Regions from separate parts of the Homo sapiens genome. Here regions 1 and 3 are each linked to region 2. The links come from fine-mapping of genetic effects on gene expression. A gene starts in region 2. Each other region holds a variant in brackets. All regions are shown on one strand. Distances are from middle to middle.

Region 1 (4,184 bases), 48 kb after region 2:
AAATAGGGTTTCTGTAATTTTGAACAGAACAGACCCCAAGTCTTGTATAGTTCCTGGTGGAAGGTGATCAGCGAGGTCTAGAATGATGAGGGAAGGCAGGAAGAGTCATAGAGGAGATAAGGTGAAGAAAATCCTACAGGGAGGGAATGAATTTGGGTCAAAAATAGGATAAATGGGAATCAAGCACAAGGCAGTTTCGGACAGGGACAGAGGTGAGCACTTGGGAACTTATTTTTTTTGTGAGCCAGTGGGAAAACCAAGGAGGCTAAACCATAGAGCCTGGAGATGTGAAGGAAGTACAGGTGGGTAAGAAAGGGAGAGCCAGATCACAAGCACCTTGAAACCAGACACTGGTTTGGGGTCTTCAGCAGTCCTCTGTCGAAATACATATATTCAGGGGCTGGGTGTGGTGGCTCACACCTGTAATCCCAGCCCTTTGGGAGGCAGAGGCAGGCAGATTACTTGAGGTCAAGAGTTCAAGACAAGCCTGGCCAACATGGTAAAACCCCGTCTCTACCAAAAATATAAAAAACTAGCCGGGCGTGGTGGCATGCACCTGTAATCCCAGCTACTCGGGAGGCCAAGGCAGGAGAATCACTTGAACCCAGGAAACGGAGGATGCAGTGAGCCGAGATCGCGCCACTGCACTCCAGCCTGGGCGACAGAGCGAGACTCCATCTCAAAAAAAAAAAAAAACAAACATATATTCAGGAAGAAAATCAAGGAGTAAATTGGAGGTGGCGGGGTGCGGTTGGTGGGTGTAGGCTGGACACTGTGCTGTGCTGTATTTTGTGTCACCATAGAAGAAAAGGAATATGGTATTCAAGTATCAGCCGGTGACCTTTAATTGTCAGTTCTTTATCTTGGGATAAATTCACAGACTGATTCACAGTTTTGCCTGCCACTGGCCATTTTAATGCCAGTAGTAGACAAAACCACCCTTCCTTATGGCCCAGTGAAACCTCATTACCTGTACTTTGTTGAATGGATGCTCTTTTGAATTAAAATCAAGATGTGGGGGCCGGGCAAGGTGGCTCATACCTGTAATCCCAGCACTTTGGGAGGCCAAGGCGGGCAGATCACGAGGTCAGGAGTCTGAGACCAGCTTGGCCAACATAGTGAAACCCCGTCTCTACTAAAAATACAAAATGTGGTGGCATGCGCCTGTAATCCCAGCTACTCGGGAGGCTGAGGCAGGAGAATTGCTTGAATCCGGGAGGCCAGAAGTTGCAATGAACCGAGATCGTGCCATTGCACTCCAGCTTGGGTGATGGAGCAAGACTCTATCTCAAAAAAAAAAAAAAAAAAAAAATCAAGATGTGAGAAAGTCTCCAGAGATGGCTTTTTAGGCAATAGGTCAGAAGAAGGACGAGGTATCCTGGTGTAAGTCACCTGAGGGCCTTGTGTAGCTTCCCTGAATGTGTTGCAATACACAGGGAGGAAGCCGTCTTTCCTAGATTTATACCCACTTTCAGATTTACACCCGCTCCCTAAGGCCAAGGTGCCTCTGGTCAGCAGTAGAATGAAAAAGAATTATTCTCACCAAGGAAATCTCTGTAGAAAAGTTGCTGTGAAACTGGAATAGGTGTGTCTTTCTGTCCTTCCGGTTCTTTTTATAGATACTGCAGGAACCTCAGTGAGAGCCTACGGTTCTTCCGCCCATTTGGGGAGAGATTAAAGAAGCTGAGGTTGGCTCTTTCTTACTCATTGGCAGTTACAACTTTGCCAGCACTACAGCCTAAGCTTCCAGAGTGGACACGGAGAAGGTAAGTTGGAATTGGGGGGCCATGTTCTCAGCTGTAAACCTGGGTCACTCCAGCCATCTGGTCTGGGGATAACTGAAGGGAAGTAGAGCTAAGGGGTATTCAATTGCAATTGATTTTTTTTTTTCAAATGAATATGTGGGATCTTTTTCCTAGGCTACCTCAGTCAAGACATGGACTTTCGTACTAAACTGTTCAAAAAGGTATTTAAAGAAAGGGACCATTTTGTACAATTCTTTGATGAACACACAATAGGTGTTTAACTACAACCTGCTGCATTGGATTGACTTGAATTAACTGAAAGAAGGAACAGTCATTAAAATTACTGGGAAATTTTATTCCCAGTAATTTATCTGCCTGTCTCCTTCAAGCAGTGCATCAGTGTCTAGAACGATCCAATGATCCATTAATGTTGGCAGTCCTTGTTCTGGAGTCTGATATAACTGAATTCCATCAATCATGCAAACATTCTCATACACCTCCTTTTATGAAAAAGATTTTGTATTAGCTTTCAAAGCCTTGGAAATTAGCATACACAAATGGACATATTATCAAGTGAAGCCTGTTCAGCTTTTCCCAGCAGGATGAAGCCAAGATAGTTTTGAAGGGTTTAGGTTGCCTTTCTCATTTCCTTTACTGACATCCTATATAAAACTGCTATAAATTTGGGGTAATATGTGTGATGGCATTTCCCATCCCCTTAGACTATGTTTGCATATATCTCTGAATTTCTTCCCCCAGGGAAGCTTAGCATTTAGATAAGTATCAGGAGTCAAACAAAATGTAACTCAGGCTCTTGACAGTGTCCTAGGAACAATTTTGGTAAGGACATTTATTTCATATGCCCAGGTGTCTTCATTTCAGAATGAGAGAAATTACAGTGCCCAGCATGGACCACCCAATAG[G/A]CATTCTTGTAGGTATTAGGTTGGTGCGAAAGCAGTTGCGGTTCTTGACGTTACTTTTTTTGTTTGTGTGTTTTTTGTTTTTCGGTTTTTGTTTTCAGACAGCGTCTCACTCTGTCGCCCAGGCTGGAGTGCAGTGGTGCGATCTTGGCTCACTGCAACCTCTGCCTCCTGGGTTCAAGCAATTCTCCTGCCTCAGCCTCCCAAGTAGTTGGGAATATAAGCGCATGCCATCATGCCCGGCTAATTTTTTATGTGTGTTTTTAGTAGAGATGGGGTTTCACCATGTTGGCCAGGCTGGTCTTGAACTCCTGACTTCAAGTGATCCACCCACCTTGGCCTCCTAAAGTGCTAGGATTACAAGCATGAGCCACTGTACCCTGCCTTGTTTTTTGCTTTTTGAGACAGAGTCTCACTCTGTCACCCAGGCTGGAGTACAGTGGGGCAATCTCGGCTCAATGTAAACTCTGTCTCCTGGGTTCAAGCGATTCTCCTGCCTCAGCCTCCCGAGTAGCTGAGATTACAAGTGTGCACCACCACACCCGGCTAATCTTTGTATTTTTAGTAGAGATGGGGTTTCACCATGTTGGCTAGGCTGGTCTTGAACTGCTGACCTCAAGTGATCGGCCCGCCTCAGCCTTCCAAAGTGCTGGGATAACAGGAGTGAGCCACCGCACCCAGCCTTCTTGCCATTACTTTTAATAGCAAAAAGCACAATTACTTTTGCACCAACCTAAGAGATGCAGAGTTGTCAATTTGTCTCATCCTTTTTCTGCAGGGCATCAGAAAACCATTCTGGTGAGGTCCACACCCATAAGTCACCATGTACAAGGACTGCATCGAGTCCACTGGAGACTATTTTCTTCTCTGTGACGCCGAGGGGCCATGGGGCATCATTCTGGAGTCCCTGGCCATACTTGGCATCGTGGTCACAATTCTGCTACTCTTAGCATTTCTCTTCCTCATGCGAAAGATCCAAGACTGCAGCCAGTGGAATGTCCTCCCCACCCAGCTCCTCTTCCTCCTGAGTGTCCTGGGGCTCTTCGGACTCGCTTTTGCCTTCATCATCGAGCTCAATCAACAAACTGCCCCCGTACGCTACTTTCTCTTTGGGGTTCTCTTTGCTCTCTGTTTCTCATGCCTCTTAGCTCATGCCTCCAATCTAGTGAAGCTGGTTCGGGGTTGTGTCTCCTTCTCCTGGACGACAATTCTGTGCATTGCTATTGGTTGCAGTCTGTTGCAAATCATTATTGCCACTGAGTATGTGACTCTCATCATGACCAGAGGTATGATGTTTGTGAATATGACACCCTGCCAGCTCAATGTGGACTTTGTTGTACTCCTGGTCTATGTCCTCTTCCTGATGGCCCTCACATTCTTCGTCTCCAAAGCCACCTTCTGTGGCCCGTGTGAGAACTGGAAGCAGCATGGAAGGCTCATCTTTATCACTGTGCTCTTCTCCATCATCATCTGGGTGGTGTGGATCTCCATGCTCCTGAGAGGCAACCCGCAGTTCCAG
Region 2 (4,201 bases):
CTGTCGATGCTGATCACGTACAAGGTCAAGATCCAGGCCGTGCAGCACATGACATTCATGGAGAAGACGTTACAGAAAAAGTGTCCAAAGATCCACTTGCCCCCGATGAGGTCGGTGACACTGATGAAGGGCATGACCGCCATGGCCACCGAGAGGTTGGCCAGCGCCATGGACACGATCAGGTAGTTGGAGGGCTGGCGGAGCTTCTTGACGAAGCACACGGAGATACCACCAGGCAGTTGCCCGCGATCGCAGAGAGATGAGCGTCAGGACAGAGCCGATCACAACTTTCTCGGCCCTTTCTTGATTTGCTCCCCGCGGCCGGAGGCATTGCCCGGGGTTGCGTCCCAGGTGGGCGCCGGGCTGGCCGTCACCTCGGGGGCCCCCGCTCAGCAGATGCGGCGTCCCGGAGACCGCGACCGGTTCGGCGCCACCGTCGGGGCTCAGGTCGGGCAGCCTGCCCCCCACCTCCGGCAGGAGGAAAGAGCAGAGGCGCCCGTAGAGGTCCGGGTGGCCGCTGCTGTTAACATCCATCACTGCGCCGCCGTGTGGCGCTGCCCAAGAAGCCGCCCCACCCCCCTCCCCACCCCCGCGGCCGCCACAGGCTCCGGCTTTCGGCCCCGGGGCTTCAACTCGCCGGTTCCCCTCCGCCCGGCCCAGCTTGAGGCCTGCACCGGCCGCTGGGCAGCGCCAGGCTCGGCCTCGGGGCCCCGCCTGTCCCAGATCCCCGGCCGCTGCGTGAAACGCGAGAGCGCTGCCGAGCGGGGACTCCCTGAGGGAGGGACCTCGGACCCCGACGGACGCCCGGGACGCGCGGGCTCTCGGGCGCTCCGGCGGGGCTCGGCCCGCGGCTCCACAGCCCGCTGCACCCGCGCGGCTCGGAGCAATGGAGGATCAGGCAGCGGCAGAAGCTTCCGTTTCCTCCTTTTTAAATGGCTCCAAAATATTTCTTGTCGGTGGTGTGGAGTAGAGATTTATTGGTAAAATACTTGACAGAAAGCAGGCACTCAGCTGAGTAAATGGTGACAAAATTGGTGAGAAGATTTTTGAACAGGAGTGAACGAGAAAAGCCATGCTTAGAAAAGTCACCTGGAAACTGTGATTTAGAGGGATGGTAGGAAAGAGTGGCAGCAGGAAAGTGGTTTGGATGCTCTTTCAATGGTCTAGAAGAGGTCATGGGGCGGGGGTAGAGGGACAGCTACCAAGACAGGGAGCCTGGCCGCCGCTGTACCAGCGGGATCGAGCCTTCGGGTAGAGGACCGGAGAAGCGTGAGCAACCCGGGGCTCGGAGGTTGGAGCCCAGGCACCTGAGAGAGGACGTTCCCCACCACCGCTGCCTAAAGCCACTCCAGGCGAGAATCGCTTTCCAGGGCCCCAGCGGATAGGTTAGACTCAGAATAAGAGAAGGGGTCTGCGGAGGGGGACGGCCTGAGGCCCGCGGCCGGGTTCCCTCCCCAGACACCCGCGGAAAGCCCGAAAGGAGGCGGAACACGGCCCAGCGGCTCGCCACGGCGGGCCCATCCCTTGCTTAGCCGCCTCGCACCCTCGCCTCACCGCACTGCTGCACTGCTGCACTGCTGCCCTGCTGCCCGCCCTTCGCATCACTGACCCGCCCTCTCTCCGCCCCCTCGCCTCGCCGCCCCGCCCTCTCTCTCCGCCCCTTCACCTCGCCGTCCCGCCCCCTTGCCTCACCGCCGGGCTGAATTGCCGCCCCGCCCTCTAGCCACGCCCTCTGGCCCCTGCCTCTAGCCCCGCCTCTCGCCTCGCCGCCTCGCCGTCCCGCCGCCTTGCCGCCCTGCCACCCTGCCGCCCTGCCGCCCTGCCGCCCTGCCGCCCTGCCGCCGGTGGTCGCTGCCCGTGGTGCTCCGTCGCCCCCGCCACCTCACGTCCTCCCGTGCGTCGGGAGCGTCTCGGCTACAACATGTTGGGCATGATCAAGAACTCGCTGTTCGGAAGCGTAGAGACGTGGCCTTGGCAGGTCCTAAGCAAAGGGGACAAGGTAGGCCCGCAGGGCTGCCGAGGACCTGAAGGATTGCTGCCTCCCACCCCCACCCTCGTCGGGGCTGCAGCGGGTGCTGAGGGGCAGGTGGGGCAGGAATGTGCTATCGAAGGTGCGTTCTGGTGTCTGTCGCGAGTGCGGCTCTCCACCGCCCAGCATTTGGACTGGGAAGGAAAGGAGTGAGAGGTCCCCCTGCAGCCGGTGGTGAGAGGAGGGGGGTAAACAGGAGAGACTGATCCAAGGAGAGAATCCCAACTTGGGGAGTTGGGCACTGCCTGTTGAATGCATTCTTTCGTTTAAAATATTCCAAACATTCCGAACAGTTTGATTTGTTGAGAGACACTCGGTTGCAGAAATGAGTGTCGCAAGAAACTCCCAAGTACTAGAGAACTGCGGATAGTAGCCCCCTTTATCCGCGATTTCAGTTACCTGTGGTCAGCTCTTGTCCATAACTATTAAATGGAAAATTCCAGAAATACAGAAGTCCTAAGTTTTAAGTTTCCGGCCATTCTGCGTAGCAGGATGAAATCTTGATTCCTGGGACCGGAATGCCCCTTTGTCCAAGGTCAGCCTCCTATCTCTAGTAGCCGCCCTTAGTCACTTAGTAGCTAGCTTGGTGATCGGATCGACCGTGGCGGTATTGAAGTAACCCTTATTTTACTTAGTAATGGCCCCAAAGTGCAAGCTTAGCAATGCTGGCATATTGTTATAATTGCTGTTATTTTATTATTGTTGTTCATCTCTTACTGTGCCTAATTGATAAAGTTAAACTATATCATAGGTATGTATGTATAGGAAAAAACGTAGTAGATACAGGGTTCAGTTTTGTCCACCGTTTCAGGTATCCACTGGGGGGCTTGGAAGGTATCTACTATAGATAAGGGGGACTACTGTGTAAAAGAACAAGATCTGTGCAGAATAGATATAAATGCGCTACGCAGGGAGCACAGAGGCAGTCAATTCTGCCAGGGGGCTATGATGGGGACCTCAGTGGAGTGTCCTGAGCTGGGGCCTCAGGGATGTGTAGGAGTGCACACAACAGAGAAGAGCATGCACAAAGGCCCAGAGCTGTACCATTGCTTTTGGCCAGTTAGATCCTCTGGAGTTGGGTACCTAGAATACAGAATGAGTGAGAAGAGCATAATTGCTGTCTTCCCCCAAATTTATATCAGTGCTAACATGGGCTAACTGGACTGCACCCCTGAAAACAAGGAGAGTGCTGCTAGATTATAATCTCCTGGTGGACAGGTAGTTTAAACAGTGCAGCTGTATACAGAGCTCCCAATACGATGCCTCATTTGTGAAAGGACTGTATTGCCTGGGGGCCAAGTTCTGATACCTAGTACAATGATCTTCATATCACGAAAGCCCTCAATTAGACTCTAATCTGAACTCTTTGACAACCAAAGACCTTTCACCTGTTCTTATCTCCGTTTCCCCAGCTCTATGTAGAATGAACAGTTTAGCCCTGATCAGAGGTCCCACATTTGAATACCTGCAGCAACCAGGCAGGTAATGGAAATGGATGAAGCTGGCTGTTTTAGGCTATAAGGCATAGTGGGGACTGAGGCAAATCAGAGAGTGAACTCAGGTCCCCATCTCTAAACGGCAGTTCCAGCCACTTGTTGCTATGCAGTGATATATGAAACAGTGTTGCCAAATTCTTAAGGAAAACCATACATCCAGATTCTTAGCGAAATCACCCAATTTAAAAATAATTCGACAAAAACTGTTTTTTGAGTGCTATGTGCCAGGCACTCTTCTAGGCAATGGGATAAAAGATTAAAACCAGCAAAATTCTCTGCCCTCATGGAACTTATGTTTTATTGGCTAATGAACAAATAAAATGTATCATGGATCAGATAGTGATCAGTGCTGTGAAGAAAAGCAAGCAGGGGAGTGAGGAATAGGGAGTATTAGGAGTGAGGCTGTGATTTTGAGTAGGGAAACTGACATAGTTGTGCATAGGCTGGACACAAATGCAATAAGGATGCCAGTTATTAATATCAGTCCTGCTGTGAGCATCCAAAGGACCCACCCAAGCCAACACAGAGAGCTGTCTATCCGCCTCCCTGGGCAATGAAAAAGGCACCTGATAAGGTCTGCAGCATCACTGGCCTCCCCATCAAGTAGTTGCCCTACTCAGAACCACAGCCTTTCTCCTAACAGCCCTGATGAAGGTTCCTGTGATTCTAACACTTT
Region 3 (4,201 bases), 32 kb after region 2:
TGGTGGCATGTGCCTGTAGTCCCAGCTACTCAGGAGTCTGAGGCACAAGAATCATTTGAACTCAGGAGGTGGAGGTTGCAGTAAGCCAAGATCGCACCACTGCACTCCAGCCTGGGTGACAAAGCGAGACTGTCTCAAAAAAAATAAATAATAAATAAATAAATAAATAAAGCTGCTGCCTCTGCAGATTAGCATATATAAGGATGTTTTCCCTCCTCCAGAAGCCATCTTCCCGAGGCATGAATATTCCTTGTATGTTTTGTGAGCCTCACCCAGTAAAATTTGTTCTGGATGTCCCACAGCACAACACCACATTCTCATGCTCATGTGAGTGTTTAAGGGCCCTGGGTGACTGTATATAAATACAGTGGAAGGCCTGGCTGAGCTCAGGGAGTTAGTTGGTCATCACTTGTTTAAGAAAGACCTCCTTAATTACATTTGGCTTCTCCACTCCTGAGTAATGTTACTTTGATCTTGAGCACAGTAATTAAAGTTTCATAGCATGCCGCATTGGTGGGTATATAGTTGATTGAATGCCATGGATCTTGCCTTTGAATTTATATTTCTAACTAGCTCTAGCCTTTTTCCTTAGAAGTAATTTTGTTTCTATAGCAACATTATTCTAGAGGAATTGGGGACAGACCCAAACAATATCCGCAAATTCAGAATCAAGAATCAAACCATGTAAGGTGGAAATGCCAGAATGGGCTGAAGGTATGGCAAAAATTTGTGTAGGCAATGAAGAGCTATTGCATAATCAAACTTCGGGTAAAAAGACCTCCTCTCTCCTTGGCAATGAATTAATTAGACCCTCATCAAAAAGTCTTTTTTTTTTTTTTTTTTTTTGAGATGGAGTCTCACTGAGTCGCCCAGGCTGGAGTGCAGTGGTGCGATCTCGGTTCACTGCAACCTCCACCTCGTCGGTTCAAACAATTCTCCTGCCTCAGCCTCCCGAGTAGCTGGGACTACAGGCGTGCACCACCACACCCAGCTAATTTTTTTGTATTTTTAGTAGAGATGGGGTTTCACTATGTTGGCCAGGCTGGTCTTGAGCTCCTGACCTCAAGTGATCTGCCCACCTCGGCCTCCCAAAGTGCTGGGATTACAGGCATGAGCCACCACGCCCAGCCAAAAAAGTCGTTTCAAGAGTGGGCTCAAACCCCAGCCTCTTCTCATATCCTGCCTCTTGCTCCCTTTTGGGTTCCTTACCCTCCAGCAGCACTGGAATTATTGCTGGTTCCCCTGGCAGCCTCCCCACCGCCCCTCCTTCATGCCTTCACTCACACTGCTCCCATACCTACAATCCCCAATCCCTTTAGAGTCCAGCTCAAACGTCTTTGAATTCTTCCTTGGTCTCTTCAGGAACACTCCTTTTTCTCTATGATTTATAATCCCCACCCCACACCCATAGCATAAAGGATGTGTGCACCATAGATGCTCAGTTGTATTAATGTAGATTGGCTGGAATTTTAAAAAAATAAGAGCTACTGATAGCTAATATTCATTGAGCATTCACCACGTCCCAGGAACTGTGCAAACTTGTTACATGGACTACCTTATGTATTCTACACAGCCCTATGAGGTGTTCACTAGCACTGTCATCTCTACCCCATGTACAGATGAACTGGGGCAGCTTTGGGAGGCTCATTAGCATGCTCCAGGCTACGCAGATGATCCGTGACAGAGTCAGAATTTGAGCCCATGCTCTTATCTGCTCTGCAGTACAACACTAAATGCTTAGTTCAATGGCTGGTTTCCCTGGCTGGCAAGAAAGGAAATAAGACAGGGTGTGAATCTACCAGTGAGTATGCTGGGTGGGTGTTCCCTCATCCCTGTATAATTTACTCCGTGGCTCAGCCAGAGTGGCAGTGAGATAATCCCTGTGTCCCTAGGGTATGTGCCACTGCCTGGAATTTAGATGAACAAACTCCATGAGATCAAAACTCCAGAAGCAGCATAGATACCCAGCAGCAACCTATTTGCCGCTTGTCAAATTAGCAGCCCTTGTTTTCTCTCATATAGTAAAACTCAGCTAAAAGAAATTCTTATGCCACCAATACAAACACAAGACTATTGCCCCTTCTTACATAATGTCTATGACATACTTCTGAATATATAATGTATGTTTGTGATCCTGTTGTCTCTGCTTACTTTTTAGAGCCCTTTCTTAGGGGCTAGCAGAT[T/C]GTGGATTCACACCAGGGTGTCTGCCGGTGTGAGCAGAATGTGTCTTATGAGGGGGGCCCTAAACTGGAGGCAGAGCCCAGCAAAGCCTCAACCATTCTAAGAATCAAAAGGAAGCTTCAGCACTTGGATGTATCTGCAAAGGCTCCACGGAGGAAGTGGACTTACGAGAGTTGATTTAATTATTAGGAGAAGAGGCTTCTCGGTCATTGGGGAACACTACCCTTGCCTCCTTCCCTCTCTCAGAGGATGAGGTGTCCCACCTTCCATCCAAAGCTCATTGTGTCGTCTGTGCTGGGGGCCAGGTCTCTCACTTGCTCAGGAATTTCATTCTACCATCTACTCTGTCCTTGTTATTTCAGTCTCTCCCTGGTCTCTGCCTCCTCCTTCTCAACACAAATTCATGCTCACATCTCTTTAATTAGAACAACAAAAAACATCTTCCTTCAATCTAATCTTGCTTTCCAGGTACATCTCAGCTCTCTCATTACCTCTATAAATTGTCTTACAAATGACTTTACACAGAGTGTTTACATCCTTCCCCCTCATTTCCTCCACTCATTGACATTTACTTTCTCTGAAACTGATCATCATGAAGTCCAGAATAGTTGGCCTTTATCAGGCTGAACAGCTTCTCTGTACTGTTCAATACTGAGACCTCTCCTTCTCCCTGGTATTCTTCCTCTGGTACCTGTGACCTGCCATTCTCCAGGTGCACCTGCCTCAGACTACCTCCCCACTTCTTTCATAAGCGCATCTCTCCATGCCCAGCCCTAAATGTTGGTGTCCCCAGGACAGGGTTCTCTACCCTCTACTGGCTGCATCATGTCATTGTGCCCACTCCCAACAGCAGGTCATCCATGACCATGAAAATCGTGCACATGGGTTCTGTGACCATCCATGACCTATTGACTCCTATTTATTTACAGCCCATCTCTCTTCTTAATTTTTTTCTTCATCTCATCTCCTTTCAAAATGTCACCCTCAGGTATGCGGAAATAAGAAATGGGTTCACTGCTGAGACATACACTGAACAATTCCTCATTGATACAAAAACGTAACAAAAATTCTGGGTTTTTTTCAGACGGAGTCTCACTCTGTCACGCAGGCCAGAGTGCAGTGGTGCAATCTAGGCTCACTGCAACCTCCGCCTCCTGGGTTCAAGTTAATCTCATGATTCTCGTGTCTCAGCCTCCCGAGTAGCTGGGATTACAGGCACGTGTGCCACCATACCTGGCTAATTTTTGTATTTTTAGTAGAGACGCGGCTTTACCGTGTTGGCCAGGCTGGTCTCGAACTCCTGGCATCAAGCAATCTGCCCGATTAGGCCCCCAAAATGCTGGGATTACAGGCGTCAGCCATTGCTCCTGACCTAAAATAAACATAACAAAAGTTGTAAAAGTGCCATTTGTAAGGGCTTCTAAGGAATGGATAAGATCCACCCTCTTTTTGGGGTCTTTTTCTAGTAGGAAGAGAGATAGGGTCAGGGAAATATTAATTTCTTCTTCAAGTTACACATACTTCACAGTGCATAAATCTCAACTGTTTAATTTACCAGCCCCAATTAGACGTGGTTTTCTTGAGTGCTGATATTTAGTATTATTTATTTTTGTAGCCTCAGTTCCCAGCTGTGTACCAGTATATAGTGAAAGCTTGGTGTATGATTGTGGGATGGATAAATGAATGAATGTGTTTCCCAATTCATGAAATTGCTGAAAGAAAGGTGAGGAATGAGGATGGAGAGGGGTGTCCTGACTGTGGCACCAGCCTGGTACCTGCTTAGGATGCCAACAGGAAGTTGGCACATGAAGAAAAGTACAAAAATGCAGAAATAAATCCAGATGTTCAAGATGCATATATCCAGTGACCTACTTGACATATTCATACAAGGAATTTGCAGATACCTCAAACAGCACGTCCAAAACTGAACTCTCACTGCACACTTTTCCACCCTCCTTTTCATGCCTCCATCTTCCCCATATCTCTAAATAACACTACCATTCAACTACGTGCTCAGATC

The links. PIP is the estimated chance that this variant, and not a neighbour inherited with it, causes the effect. A credible set is the group of variants that fine-mapping cannot tell apart.
Region 1: its variant is the best candidate, but not a certain one, in a credible set for the expression of HEBP1 in whole blood (INTERVAL, PIP 0.54).
Region 3: its variant is the best candidate, but not a certain one, in a credible set for the expression of HEBP1 in whole blood (TOPMed, PIP 0.83).

Annotation. Positions count from the first base shown.
Region 1 is chr12:12,949,689-12,953,872 of GRCh38, reverse strand. GPRC5D (G protein-coupled receptor class C group 5 member D) reads left to right here and starts at 1,703. Exons shown (of 4, transcript NM_018654.2): 1 at 1,703-1,766; 2 at 3,444-4,184. The coding sequence starts at 3,489. The region is part of intron 1 of GPRC5D-AS1 (GPRC5D and HEBP1 antisense RNA 1); the gene reads right to left. The variant G/A (reference allele first, on the strand shown) is at 2,669.
Region 2 is chr12:12,997,835-13,002,035 of GRCh38, reverse strand. It overlaps HEBP1 (heme binding protein 1), which reads left to right and starts at 1,771. Exons shown (of 4, transcript NM_015987.5): 1 at 1,771-1,999. The coding sequence starts at 1,922. All of the region lies in intron 2 of GPRC5D-AS1 (GPRC5D and HEBP1 antisense RNA 1), which reads right to left. It also overlaps the pseudogene HTR7P1. RefSeq lists an enhancer at 1-252 and silencers at 677-826, 1,587-1,706, 1,757-1,906.
Region 3 is chr12:12,966,111-12,970,311 of GRCh38, reverse strand. The region is part of intron 1 of GPRC5D-AS1 (GPRC5D and HEBP1 antisense RNA 1); the gene reads right to left. Among named protein-coding and RNA genes, the nearest start is that of GPRC5D, 16 kb to the right of the region's middle. The variant T/C (reference allele first, on the strand shown) is at 2,184.